Linked DNA regions of Homo sapiens: region 1 is reported to be linked to region 2. The links are microRNA targets in miRTarBase. Many come from high-throughput screens and were not tested one by one. Region 2 holds a microRNA gene; the other region holds the end of a gene's coding sequence.

The links. Region 2 holds the annotated microRNA hsa-miR-5571-5p (CAAUUCUCAAAGGAGCCUCCC, at 3,866-3,886, opposite strand). A microRNA usually pairs through its seed, bases 2 to 8, with sites in the 3' UTR of a target mRNA and lowers its output. Matches are read on the target gene's strand: a 7mer-m8 pairs with bases 2 to 8, a 7mer-A1 pairs with bases 2 to 7 and ends in A, and an 8mer does both.
Region 1: the mRNA of KCNK2 is a reported target of hsa-miR-5571-5p. Seed matches in the 3' UTR shown: 7mer-m8 at 5,611-5,617 and 7mer-m8 at 5,450-5,456.

Annotation. Positions count from the first base shown.
Region 1 is chr1:215,233,909-215,240,908 of GRCh38, reverse strand. KCNK2 (potassium two pore domain channel subfamily K member 2) reads right to left here. Exons shown (of 7, transcript NM_001017425.3): 7 at 3,819-6,081. The coding sequence ends at 5,764. Among named protein-coding and RNA genes, the nearest start is that of KCNK2, 150 kb to the right of the region's middle.
Region 2 is chr22:22,882,960-22,890,176 of GRCh38, reverse strand. It overlaps MIR5571 (microRNA 5571), which reads right to left and starts at 3,910; the gene lies at 3,798-3,910. IGLL5 (immunoglobulin lambda like polypeptide 5) reads right to left here and starts at 2,361. Exons shown (of 3, transcript NM_001178126.2): 1 at 1,918-2,361. The coding sequence starts at 2,123. It overlaps LOC105372948 (a long non-coding RNA gene), which reads left to right and starts at 5,578. Exons shown (of 4, transcript XR_938047.2): 1 at 5,578-6,238. It also overlaps IGL.

The sequences.
Region 1 (7,000 bases), not on the chromosome of region 2:
TCTCTATTAATTGTATAGTGCAAAAAGGGATACCATATACAAAATCAAGAATCAATTGAATGAAATACAATAATTATTCTATGAATTAATTTTACAATCACACCATGTAAGTGATTAATATTCTCTATTGAATACTGTTCAAATGTGCCAAATAATGGATTGCTTCCAAGACTTTATCAATTTGTTTAAGCATGAAAAAGCTGGATTTTATTTGGCAAGGATAATAATTGTGCATTTAGCTTTCTACTAATAAAAAGGCATCCACTTACTAGCATTAGCAAATATGTTTTGAAGTTAATTTCTAAACAAATCTTCAAGATTAAACTATAATTGAAAAGCTTTGATAGTATCTATTGTGAGTTTAAGTTTAGAAATACAAACAATAAATTTCTTGCTTATAAGTAGCAAGAGTATATAATGACTAATAAACTGCAAGTCTGTCTAGTGTGAGAATTGGCTTTAATTCATACACCCACACACATGCACACACACACACACCACACAATAACTAGTACCAGCTTATCAGTTAATAGTAGTTAATAGGAGAAATAACTGCTGTTTGTATTTCATTTACTAGTAATCAGTGGAAGAAGACAGATAAATGTGGAGCTAAGAAAATATGAGTTATTTATGCACAAGGAAACTTCAGATGTTTACAACAGCCAAATCCCTGTTTTTATTCATTCATTTATCATGTATTTATCGAGCACCGATTTTATGTACTCTGCTAGTATCTGGGAATAAAATAGTAAGCTAAAACAAATGAATTACATTCTAGTGATAGAGACATATAATAAATAAGAATAGTTATGAATATCTAATCATAAACTGAAGGAAAGAAAGAGGTTTTATAGAGCATATTACAAAGTTACCTGAATTGGTGTTAAGGAAGGCTTATCAGAGAAAATGATAGTGTAGCTGGGTTCTGAAGGATGAGTAGAAGTTTTTTAGGTGAAAAAGGTTAAGGAGGAAAAAGAGAGTGAGCATTCTAGGTAAAGGTACAACATCAACACAACCTTGTGACAGAAGTGAGAAATCTAGTGGAGCTGGGGTTCACAGAGGTAGAGAGGGATACAAGATGAGTCTGGAGAGGGTGGCATAAAGTAGACTAATTAGAAGAAGGCCTTGTAGACAATTTGCAAATTTAAAAACAACTCTTCACCATCAATGACAAGAAAAGAATGATATAAAAGCAGTTGAGTGAAGGGAAAAGATGGTGTTGACTTGGATTAAGGCAATGGCTGTGTACAAATTCAAAACATATTTAGTTTACAAGTCAACAGCTTGGTGATAAGTGGAGATAGAGTTGAGGAAGAGAAGAAGATATCAAGGATGACTTGCCCAGCCAGAGGGATGGTCATGCCATCCGCTCAAATAGATGATACCAGAAGAAGGCCAGGTCTGGGGAAAGATTATAAAAGAGTCTTGGTTCTGTTGAGGTCCGTTTTAGAATTGAAGATACCCATGTGAGTTAGCTTGATGAATCCAGAGCAAGAAGTCCAAGTCTAAAGGTTCAAAATAAACAGAATAAAGACTAGGCAGTGAGTTTTTGGTGACTATACAAAAATACTTTAACAAGGAATGCCAGATAAAAAGAAAAAATAGTTGTAAATTGAGACAAGCCTAACACAATGAAAACATTTTGTAAAGCTAATACTAGGAAAACAATAAACGGCTTTATAAATATTAGAAATTGTAAAAGCCGGGGTTTAGTGAACAGAATCAAATCAAAACAAAAGAGCAAGACCAAAACTCCTGTTCCATGAAACCAATCCCTGTCTTTCAGGAAGTGGTAGTTGAGTTATGGCTGGGGAAGTATCATGTATGAAACAAGAGGGGAAAATCTTTGAGAGGGTCGTTGAGGTGGTTGGGGGAGGAAGAAAGCAAGTGTAGCTTATGAAGCTCCCCCTATATTAAGATAACTACAATACGTTACCCTCAAATGTTTCTGTCAGAAATAACCAGGTTATCCTGTTCTATCTTGGAACTGACACATGAGCATATGCAAGGCCAGTTTCACTATGAGAGGAAATTTTATTTTATTTTATTTTATTTTATTTATTTAGTTTTATTTTTTTGAGACAGAGTCTTGCTCTGTCGCCCAGGCTGGAGTGCAGTGGTGCAACCTCCACCTCCAGGGTTCAAGCAATTCTCCTGCCTCAGCCTCCTAAGTAGCTGGGACTACAAGCATGCGCCACCACGCCTGGCTAATTTTTTTGTGTTTTTAGTAGAAATGGAGTTTCACCATGTTGGCCAGCTGCATCTCGAACTCCTGACCTCAAGTAATCCACCCGCCTTGGCCTCCCAAAGTGCTGGGATTACAGGTGTGAGCCACCGCACCTGGCCAGTTTCACTATGGGAGGAAATTTAAGTAAAATCATGCTAAAGCAAATATCACACATTAATTGTAATGGAGTTATGAACGTTCAAATAAAAAAACCCTTTAGTTTATATAAAAACAAAGTCATACTTACATTTTAATAAGAAATGCAAATCCCAAATAAGTTACAGCTTTACTAGACCAGCAAGAATTAAAAACAACAAAAAAAGAAAGACAAGTTGATCTAGACCTCTAATTCTTAGGAATAAACAGCTATTTCAAATCTTCAGAATGTCTAAATTTGTTTTTTGGTATTCCATTTAAAACTTTAAGTCTCTTTGAACTTTAAGCTTTAAGAGTCAAATAATTCTACTGATTTTTGACACAGAATTAGATGGGATTTGGTCTTTTATGTCATGTGTTCCTTAAAATTTGAGAAATAAACAAAGCCTTACACACGGTTCTTTCTTTTTTTGAAGGCCAAGATGCACATTATTCAATTTCCTCTTGGCCTCAGAAGTTTTACTTTCTTCTGCATTACAAGAGTGAAATACTATTGGAAAACAAGGTGTGTCACATGGACTATGTAGCACAGTATATAGATCTATGTAAGAAATTGAAAGAACTCCAAAAGAACCACTTTCACATTTAGTGGCTGTAAGGTTGGATAGAGAGCATATTCTAAAATCTACATCTAGGGATATAGATTAGGGAGTCCCTGATACTTTCTGTTCTAGTAGTTTTTTTTCAAATATCTTTCCAGGAAAAACTACTCACTCTTATATTGGCCTAATGGAAAAATAAACTCACTAGAAAATTCCACGTTTTGTCAAAATCTTTATCAAGTTTCTCCCTACAAGAAATAAACAAAATAAAGCTTGAGAAAATAAAAGTGATTTCAGTTCACATAATACACACTTTCTTAAAATTCCCCTAATCCTAAGGGTAATGTGGGGGGCTAGTTTCAGAATACTTACTGAGCATCAAATTGTTTAGGAATTAATCAATAAATCTATGTAGGATACGAACAAGGTAAGTAGTCCAAACATTTGTGGTATAAGGTCTAGAAGATCGGTTGGTAACTACCTTCTTTAGACTTCAATACCACCAGGATGCTTACTTGTCTTTTTCTTACAAAAAACACATTCAGGCACCTGTGTTCAGCATTCAGTCTACTTCAGTGTCAAGACAAGGTCTAACAATGATAAAATATGGCATAAATATATGGTAATATAATAGAAACAATCTTGAAACTATATGCGATTTCAAATATCTTATTTCAAAAATGAATTTCAGTATATTTGGTTTTAGTGAGTAGCCACTGAGGAAAACAGTCTGCATGTATTTAGCAAGGGTAGTATCAATGCATCAAAAATATTTCTTAAATATTTTGAATAAAGGAGGGACACAAACTCAGCATGAAAAGTAACATCCTGGAGTTCTACCTACCTAGATCATATCTGAATTCTCAGCAGCAAGCAGGAGACTCAGAAAATGCTGACTTTAATTACAAACTTTATTTGTCAATACAATTCACAGTTTATACATGGCGCATTCCACCATATAAATTTTCGGAACAGTTATTTGAGGAAATGGGTGTAGCTTTCTTTCTAAAAGAGCCTGACTTTCTAAAATTTTGGTTGGATTTTTTTTAACTTTATAAAAGTACTTTTAACAAATTAATTGAATATTTACATTTCTAGCTTAAATTTAAATTTTGGAAAATAAGCGTCTATTAGTTTATTTGCTTCTTTTAAAGATTCTGGGTTTATTTTTCAAGACCCTAATCTGAATGCCACTTATTCAGATACAGCTCCCACCCCCACACACAAAAAAGTAAAAGAAATCAGTTTGCAATTATATTTAGGGAAATTATTTTCTTTCTGCATTTTAAAAATTATATATATATACAATGTACAGCAGATCTAAGTATGAAAATAAAGGAAAGGGTAGCAATTTACGGGGTGCATTTACTGAATTTTTTCTGAATCTTGGAACCATCCAAAGAATTACAGGATATAAAATTAAACTAAAAAGAATAATCAGCCTCTTTTATGTGAAAAAAAAACACAGCAAACTCTCAAAATTTAAATTGTGCTATAACAGCTTTTTCTCTAATGTCAGAGATGAATTATGCCTGCAATCTGCATTTTTCCATGTGCAAAGTCACAGTGATCCCAACTTCAACTTCTGCCCTCACAGCCAAGTCACAACTCCAAAAGTATACCCACAGAAGGCTAGGACTGTGCCCTGCACTCACCACTGTGCCACCTCCTCTCATCTGGCAAAAGTCACCCAACGAAAAGAAAATTATATAAGCCTTTCATACATCAAAAAGCAATTAGAAGCTGGCAGTATACTGTTTATTAGCAAATACTTGTAACACATTGTTTTGCTATTTTCTTTCCATCAGAATGATAATTCACACCCACTGTTTTAAATCCCCTCCAATAATATCCATTTTTAACAGTTTTCTTCTGTCAGGTCATTTAGATAGATAGATAGATAGATAGATAGATAGATAGATAGATAGATAGATAGATTTTCTTCTTCTGCCTTTAAAAATGTATAGTTATTAATAAATGATAAATTCCAAATACTGCCAGGAAAAAAGGGGATTGTTTGCGAGCAGCCAATTTTACCAGCCTGGTCATAATTACACTGTATATATGTACCACTGGTACCTGAGTCAAATAAATACTCAGAGGGGCCACCTCTGCACCTCATTTCTCTGCAGTGCCTTTAACGCTAGGCAACGCTGAGTGTTGCTTCAATGTCCATCTAATTTGGCATCTATTTCATCTTCGGGCATCATCACTTCAGTCATTTTACACACTGTTTCCAGCAAGGTATGGTATTCAAATGGGAGAACTGGGGTAAAAGACTGCAGAGGTGAGCCTAGGGGTGGGGGCAGGGAAGGAGAAACCACACATTAGCTAGAGAGGTTCTGTTTCTTCATAAGATAAGGCACTGACAGAAAATTTCTTAGGTAAAAGGCTGCATAAGAATTTCTTGTCATTTACAAAAAAAAAATTGTTGTCATCCATAAATGGTCCATATCTAGGCTCAGTTAGGTAGACCCTGAAAAGTTAAGAACTGATCCCTCAAAGCTACATTGTTACCAGAAACAATTCTCATTCATTCTGAGGCCTTATGGCACATTAGGGAAAGAGAGAGGAAAACAGTCTGGGCACAAAAAGGCATCAGACATTGCTTGTCATTCCACTCATCAAAGAAAGTGGACCGTTCAACAAGCATCATCAGAAAGAAAGTGCTGGCTCAGAATTCCAAATTCTCTTGATGATAGATGACCATGATGGGTGTATCTATTTTGTTCCCCCTTTGAGCTCATGCACAATTTAAAAAATGCTACCAGCAACAGTCATAAAGAGCATAGAGAAGTCCTCACCTATGGCTATGCCTAAGGTTATTTAAAGAGAGGGCTATTTGATGTTCTCAATCACAGCAATCTCTTCACCAGCACAGTGTGGCGTCAAACCATTCAGATAGATACTCTCAGTCTTCAGTAAGGGAGGCAAGACATCCCTCTCGCTGGTCAGGTGGTTCACTGACAGGGTCCTCCTACAAGGAGTCAGCTCCTGATTGTGGTTTCCAGCCAGTTCTGCCGAGAGCTTCCGCTTGATGGAGGTGGCCCGCTGGAACTTGTCATAAATCTCCACACTCAGTCGCCTCCTGGTTTCTTTGAATTCGGCTGTGACGTTGGCTGTCCACTCAGCAGCGTGTGCTCTGAACTCTCCCACCTGGAACATACAAGCAGAGAAAAGATAAAGATATTGACATGCCGATCAACATTTTCTATGCTTTATCTTCAGTTCATTTTATTTTGGGATTTTAAAAAGAAGAGTGGAGTAGTCTTTTACAGCACTGGTGGTCTGAGAATTGATGAAATTAGGCAGGGTATACACAGCAGGATTCTATCTTATATAGATATAGCTCTAAAATTAATCTATGAACTTAAACTCTATGAATCAAACAATATTTCAGGGGCTCTACATGTGCTTGTTTTTTATACATGAATCCTGTCATTGAAATTTTTGATGCTGTAAAAAGGCAATCTCTAGCTTTTAAAAAACATTTTTAGTATTTTTTTCACTTGTATCTAATTTCAAGAAGTATTGGAATGTACAAAGGGCAGTAAGATATAGTAGAAGAAGCAAGGCAGAATAAAAGAGTCTGCAATATGAACCCAGGTGACCTTGTTTAGTTCTGAAAACAGCAATGCTGTTTGCTCAGATGTGAACCTAGTTTTCAGAGATCAGAAAAGGTGTGTGCAAGAGCGTTGTATCCAACCTCATACTGGTCATTTAGGAATTCTCTTTTTCCTAACTAAGCAACAAAATATTTTGTTTCTGCTTTCAGGGAATGCAAATAAATAATAACTGTTAAGTCCACCTTGAAGCCCACTTGGGAAACAGTTAAACCCAAGGCACAGTTTCTCAAAAAGTGTTTGTGGAATCCGTGAAGTTACTCAACCTGTGGGCTGCCACCTCCTCAGCTGTAGAACAGACATCTTCACAGTACACACCTAACAGGATGGCTGAGCTAATGAACTTTACAAACTGCAAGATGTTATGCATTTATTATTATGTAGTTATCTTTTGAGAATTAAAGAAAAAAAAGTGCCATCGATCACCCTGAGTCCATCAGACATTTTCTTTG
Region 2 (7,217 bases):
TTTTTTTTTTTGGCAAGAAAAAAGAGTAATGTACAAAAGTCATTACATTTTGTAATATACTCATTACAAAAAGAGTAATGCACATGAGTACATTACTGTTGTATTAAAAATTATATTAGAAGAAATGTCTCTTTTTGTGAACAACTTCACAAAACCAGAAAATTATAAAGCCACATTAAAATTAGGTGAAATCCCATCAGCCAGCCAGACACACCATTGACATTTTTCTATATTTTCTGACAGGTTTTTGAAAATGCATATATACTTTAAAAACACAGTTGGGTCAGGTGCAGTGGCTCACGCCTGTAATTCCAGCACGTGGGAAACTGAGGCAGAAAGATTGCTTGAGCTTAGGAATTTGAGACAGGCCTGAGCAATATAGCGAGGCTCTGTCTCTAAACTAATAATAATCCTAATCAAAATTAGCCAGGTGTAGTGGCCTGCATCTGTAGTCCTAGCTACTCAGGAGGCTGAGGCTGGAGGATCTTTTGAGCCCTGGAGGTTGAGGCTGCAGTGAGCTGTGGCCACGCCACTGTACTCCAGCCTGAGCAACAGATCAAGACTGTTTCAAAACAAAAACAACAACAGTCCCCCAAATACAATTGTGTTTTTTCACACCCTTTCTGGTAGATATTTGGATTTTTTCCAGTTTTCTCCCATCACTAATAATGCTGAGCTAACCACCCTTGTTATAAAGATTTGGTTACAGCTTTGATTATTCCCCCAACCAACCCTTAGGATAAATTCCTAGAAGTGGAATTGCCCAGTTTAGATAAACACACTTTGTTTTTTGACTCGCCGCCTGTTGCTAAAATGGTTATACATTTTTAATGCCCATAGACAGTCCCCGAGCGTGTCTGCTCCCCTCTGCTCAGCCCTCACTTCAACTTCATGCTCCCATTTCATAGGAAACTGGGCCCCTGGGTGCTCTGAATCTGAGTGTCCTCCCCATCCCCAAGGCACGGCTTCCTCCAGGATCCCCACCTACCCTGGACTTGGCCATCACCCCCTCTCCTCCCTCCTCTAATCGGGCGTCGCATCAGCCTCCAATCCGGTGCTGATTTTTCCAAAAACACAAATCTGACTCTGATAATCAATCTACCTAAATCCATCCAAGGACTCGTCCTGGACTGGGAATGGTGCACGGACCCTATGGTCTTCTTGCCTCCCCTTCCCAGTCACCCAGGAGCTCCCAGCCTCATCCTGTGCTCTCCTCTCCTCTGACGCTGCTCTGTCTTTTGGGGGCACCCATCACCAGCCAGTGCCCCTCGATCTGTGAGACCAGCCTGGGCATCATCCCAGAGGGAGATCCCCTCTCCCTTTATTGCTCCAAACATGGGCCGTGGGCCTGTTCCAATGACTGGACAGCTCCCCTCGGTTCATCCCACCCTCCCTGTGTCCTTGAGCCTGGCCCCAGTAAGCATTTATGTGCAAGTTGGTGAACAGACAGCCTTGGGGGAGACCAAACCAAGCCCTTGCTGCCTTCTCCAGGGAGTGGCCCCTGCCCTCACTGGGCAGGAGGCACATGGGCAGAGAGGAGGAGGGGGAGGAACAGGCCTGGGCACCCTGTGGGGACAGTGGCCACCACCCCCTGTGGATGTCCTGTCCCTGCCTCTGTTCCTTCCCTACCCAGAGGACTAGGACTAGGTGATTGAGGCACTGACCCTGGTGAAAATTTAAGTGGCGCCAGAAAACTCAGAAATCAAGAAAAATAATATCGTAATATGATATTAAAAACAGTAATTCAAACAAATCTGTGATGGACAAAATATCAACCCATTACTAAAGCCAGTGTCAGCCCAGGCCCCTCTTAGGGGTTAACCTTCCTCCTCACTCCTCTGGCTTGTCTCCCCTTGGTCACCCTTTCCCAGCTCTGCTGCAGGACCCCCACATCCCCTGGAATCTCTTGCCCCTTACCTGCCCCACAGGCTCCGCAGGCTGGATCGGCTGCTTCCAACTGAGGCTCCAGGGTCTGGGTCCCCGCTTTGCGGTGCAACCATTGGGCGCAGCAGGCCATGGGCGACCATGGCCAGACCCAGCAGCAGCAGGGGCCAGCGCTGCCTGGGACCAGGGCCCAGCTCCTCAGGGGTCTCACAACCCACTTGGCCTGTCTTGGGTCTCATTGGCCTTCAGGTTCAGGGGCACCTCTGGCCCGACTTGCAGCATGGGCTCCCTGGAGGACGGTGCCCTGGTCCCTCTCGCCAGCAGGGCTGTTACAGTACACCCCAGTCCATTGGCTCTGTCCTCTCCCTGGACTGGCTCTGGTCCCTGTCCCTAGCCCAGGCCCTTCCAGGGTCCATGGCTGTCACCCCTGGGGATCTCTCCCAGAGGGGCATCTACCAACTGCCCTGAAGCGGTCACAATCCAGGGCTCAACTGCCTCCCACCACAGCCGGCTGCCTGGCCCCGCCCCTGGGTGGTGCACACCTGACCCACTTGTCTTCCCCACTTCCCAAAGGGCAGCCTGGGTCTGTGGAGCATCTCCCTAGGGCCTAGAGAGCTGCCCAGCAGGAGTCCCCAAGGGCTTGAGCTCAGGGGGTTGGGGCTGGGGCTGGAGCTGTGGCTTCTTTTCTGATCAGTCTTCCAGGCTGGGTGCCTGTACACTGCACTCCAGCCAGTTGGGACCAGCCCTTTCTTGGCTGGGTTGGTTAAGCCTGGCTGGCTATCCTGTGGCCCTTTCCTGAGTCAGGCAAGAGCCCTGCAGGGAGTGATTCTATATCCTTCAGGCAAGGAAGAGTGGTGAAGTCATAAATGTGGAGTCTATCTAGACCTAGGTTACCTCTGGGCCTCAGTTTCCTTATCTGTAAAATGGGGAGAGTTCCTCTGCAGCATGAAGCTTATGAGAGTTAAAGAAACCATGTGTTTGCTAAGCACTCAGTGGGTGTTGAATAAATTCTGGTTCTTTTTTTGTTCTTCTCTTACTTTGGGATTCACAACTACTTGTGGGGTGTCCTTGGGGCCAGTGTCTCTGTTTTACAGGTGAGAAAATTACCATCCAGAGAAGATGAATGCAGGGTCCAATATCATTCCTTAAGTAGGGAGCAAGCTGCGCTAGGATCTAGGAAGGGGCTCGTCCCCTGTATTTCTATTCGTCTGTCCACCTGGAATACTCGTGCCTGGCTCCATTCGGCAGTGGTGGAGGAGGAGAGGGCTGGCAGGTGCTTTAAGTTGGGGTCCTTTTTGACTATAATATGGGAATATGATGCATAATACAATAATAATGCATTACATTATTATTGCTTTACAAGCACTAATCCTGGGAGCTAAGATCATCTACTGTCCTCCACATTTGAAGATGAGGAAATGCTGCTCAGGCTGATTCCCTACTCTTTTAATGTCACAGGGCCAAGAGGCAGTAGGTCTGGAGTCGGAATCTGAGGCCTGGTCCTTGCATGACACTAGGGCGTGCTTTGCTGATGATGACATGGCTCTCTGGGTCTAGGTGGTAACACACTGCTTGGTGCATGGGAAAACCCAGAGCTTGGCACAAAGGAGTGGCTCAATTAAACATGGACTAAATCTGGTTGAATAAACCTCTTTTGCTTCATGTGACCCCTTGTGTCATTTGCACTCCTTTACGCCCCATTCATCGCTCCCATCTTTTCTGTTGCCCTGAGAGCCTAGTATAAAAATGTTTGAGGAGATCTTCAGGACCCCATACTCTGGTGAGAAAGGCCCCTGCTCTGCCCCCTTACATTACAGAACTGCAATGAGGGTCTGCCCTCTTGCTTTCCAGTTTCTTTTTCTGCCACAAAATCTTTAAAAATATCTGCTCAAGTTCAGATCTGCAGCCCTCTAGGACTCTCAATGTTTTGTTTTAGCAACTCTCAGAGGAGCCTCCTAGGACTTCCTAAAGTGAATTTCCTGGGAGGCTCCTTTGAGAATTGCTTGGTTCACATTTTGTGTCAGATACTCCTTAACTTCCTTGATACATTTGGTGACAATCAAGCCAGACATTTTTGTGGGCTATGGTAACAGACAAATAGCCTGAGACTTCATTTCATTGATAAAGTTGATGGTTGTTGGGAGACAGTGGTCTACTATGGATCTCTGCATTTCTGCATGTCTCTCGGGCAAAGGCACTGATTGTGGATTATCTTTTCAAGAGTGTTTGTGGAGTGAACAACCTCGGAAGGTACAGAGAATGCCTCTCTTTGGAGCAAAACACAGATATATGCTTACTGTCAAGTATGAAATATTTGGGATCCCTGAGCTCTGGCATGCAGATGTCACCTGGCCCTCTTTGCATCACCTTGTGGAACTGGTGCAAGACAATGCTGATACCTTGGCAACTGCTATTGCTGTGAAAAACAGATTATTCGTTGTCTCTGACCCAGGAGTCTTGTATCTTCTGCCAGCATCCATGGCACTGTGGCAGGCTTACTTTTTAGTCTGCAAATAGGATGAAGTCTCAGACTCTTAACAGTTCTTGAAGGTGATGATAATGAGGAGGAGGAGGAAGAAAGAGATGAAGTTGAGGATGGTGATCATGACTTAATGGTTCGACTCATCGAATCGGTTTTCAAAGATCTCCAGGCTGGATCTTTATACACATTGCTTGGGTAACTTTTGAGGACCAGGTGCTGGGGGCTGGATTATACAAATAATCACCACACATCCCTGTCCTTCAAAATAGGCAAGGCACTGAGCAGTAACAGGGTGTAGGTGCCCTAACAGACATCATTCAGGGCACAAGGGAGGGCCCTGGGAAACCCCTGGTCCAGCACAGCTTCTCCACTGGGGAGCTTGGCCTATTCCTGCCTCTGATCTTGGGCTCCTTGGATATTCGGGGCTGGGGCAGGGTCTGCCCTGGGAGTCTAGGCTGAAGCTGCTCCCTTCCAGCCCCTCTGTGGGTATGACACTCACCCACTGCTCAGGACCCAGAAGCTGTGGTTCCTTTCAGGGACAGTCCCAGGTCTTGGGGATAAAAAGGGGCTGTCCCTAAATGTAGCATCCCCAGCTGCTGCCCCTACCCCCACCCTTGCACCTGCCATGGCCTCTGGATAGACATCGTCACCGCAGACCACATCCTTCCATGGTGGCTGCAGTCGGAAATCCGAGTCTGTCTGGGGACCCTGGAGGACTGGACTAGGCCTCCCCAGCAGGTGCAGCTGCAGCTCTGGCCACCCAGGCCTATCCCCTGCCCTGAGATGTGCAAGGGCTGGATCCAGGCCTGGGCAGAAGCAGCCAAGTCCAGCTGTCCTGTTTGGCAGACCCCCTGCTGAGGGTCTGTGGTGCCTCTGCAGAGCTCTCTGGGTCCCGCCCTGGCCCTTCTCTCCCAAAGCAGAGGGATGTACCCCATCCAGTTGCTTCTGCCCTGCTCCATGTCTGAGGGTATCCCCCACCTTGGCCTTCTGCTGGTCAGTCCCCTGCCCAGTCTCCATCCCCCAGGTCCCAGAAACTCCACCTGCAGGCACTGCAGACTCCTCTCCCCCAGGTCCAGGGGTCCCCAGCTCCCCACTCCCCACCATCCCTAAATTCAAGCTGGCTGGTCTTTCTTGTCTCATCTTGAGCTTCTCACTCTTGGGATCTGGGGGAGTCTGAGGCACAGGATGACAAAGTATTGGCTGGGGATATGACAAAGGTTCTGGATCTCTGAGTCCCCAGAGTTAGAAGCTGGCTCTGCAGCTCCTGATCCCCCTCTGAGGAGTCCTCAGGAACCCCAAAGACCCCAGCTCCTCTGGTGATCCTGGGTTGCAGCCTCCACCCCAGCTCTCCTCCAGGAAATGGAAGAGATCCCTGCTCCCTTTGTAGATGTCACAGAGTGGACTTGCCAACCTGGCAGGGAGGTCTTCTAGCTACTTCTACCAGTGTGGAAACACAGTCTCAGAGAGGGAGAGTTTCTTGCCCAAGGCACACAGCGACTTGGTGTAAAGACTGTGTCTTGGGACTTACTAATAGCAATCAAAGACCTGGAGGACCAGCCTTTTTGGACATGAGGTGGAGCCAGCCTGGAACTGGAGGGTGGAGTTTTGGGAGGTTTCTGTTCTTTAACCTCCACCAGCTGCCTGGAGTGCAGCTGTAAGGGGAGAATCCAGTAGGGGGCAGAAGAGACCAGCAGTAGAGGAAGCCTGAGGAGGAACTGGCTGGAGCTCTTCAGAAGAGAAAGGCCAAGACCCAGGGGAGGGCTCTGGTGGCCGGGCAGAAGGCGGTGCAGGGGCCTGACTCTGGTTTTGCATCCCTGTGGGTACTCACTCACCTGTGGGACTGTGGGTAGGACCAAGAACAAAACCACTGAGGTGAGTGAGTCAGATCCTGAAATTTTGTTCATTGTGGGTTTGTTGGGCATTAATTTTGATTTTTGAAAATATTGCATTAAGTATTATTTATCTGGGTCACTAGGTTTTTGGATGCTCCTTTAATTTTTGCATTCGAGGTGAGTGATGGCTGTCACTTGGAACTCCAGGAAACCAGTCTCTGGAGACATGCACATAGAGGCTATATATCTGACATACAATCGTAGAGCCGAGTCTCGGCTTGAGAATATAATACCTCTAGCAGTGAAGGAGCCAACTGTCCCACTCAACACTGTGTCCCCAGTCACCTGGCTTGGCACCTGGCACATATTGGGTCCTCCATGAATATTTCTTGACCAAATGAATAAATGGACCAGGATTCAACACCAGGCCTCTTTGACCAGAACCTCTTCCGTCTACACCCAGGGACCTCCAGCTTGGGAAGACCCTCAGGGTTGGACTCACTCACACCTCAGAGGACCACCAGCTCTTCCCTCTGCCACCTCCTAGGGAAGGGGCTACAGAGCATCAACTCACTGTGACATCACCTACCCAATACAGGCCCCGAGGCCTGAAATCTAGGTGACACTTAGAACCTCCTCTGTCTAGGACTCTCTCCCCTGCCTGGTACGAGGAGTACTCCAGGCACACCAACCACTGGTGTCTGGAGAGGCGAATCTCTGTTTTTGTTGTCCCTGAAGTCGTTTTTCACAACTGGAAACATCTTCTGTCTGGACCGAGCAATAAGACCGCTGAAGCCACTCTGACCCCCGCTTAAGGGGTCCCTAGGAACCTTGAAGACCCCAGCTCCTCTGATGATCCTGGGTTGCAGCCTCCACCCCAGCTCTCCTCCAGGAAATAGGAGAGGTTCCTGCTCCCTCTGTAGATGTCATGGACTGGCCCACCTGACAGGGGGTCTTCCCACTACTGAGGAGGAAACAGAGGCAGAGAGAGAGAGGGAGAGGGAGGGGGAGGGGGAGGG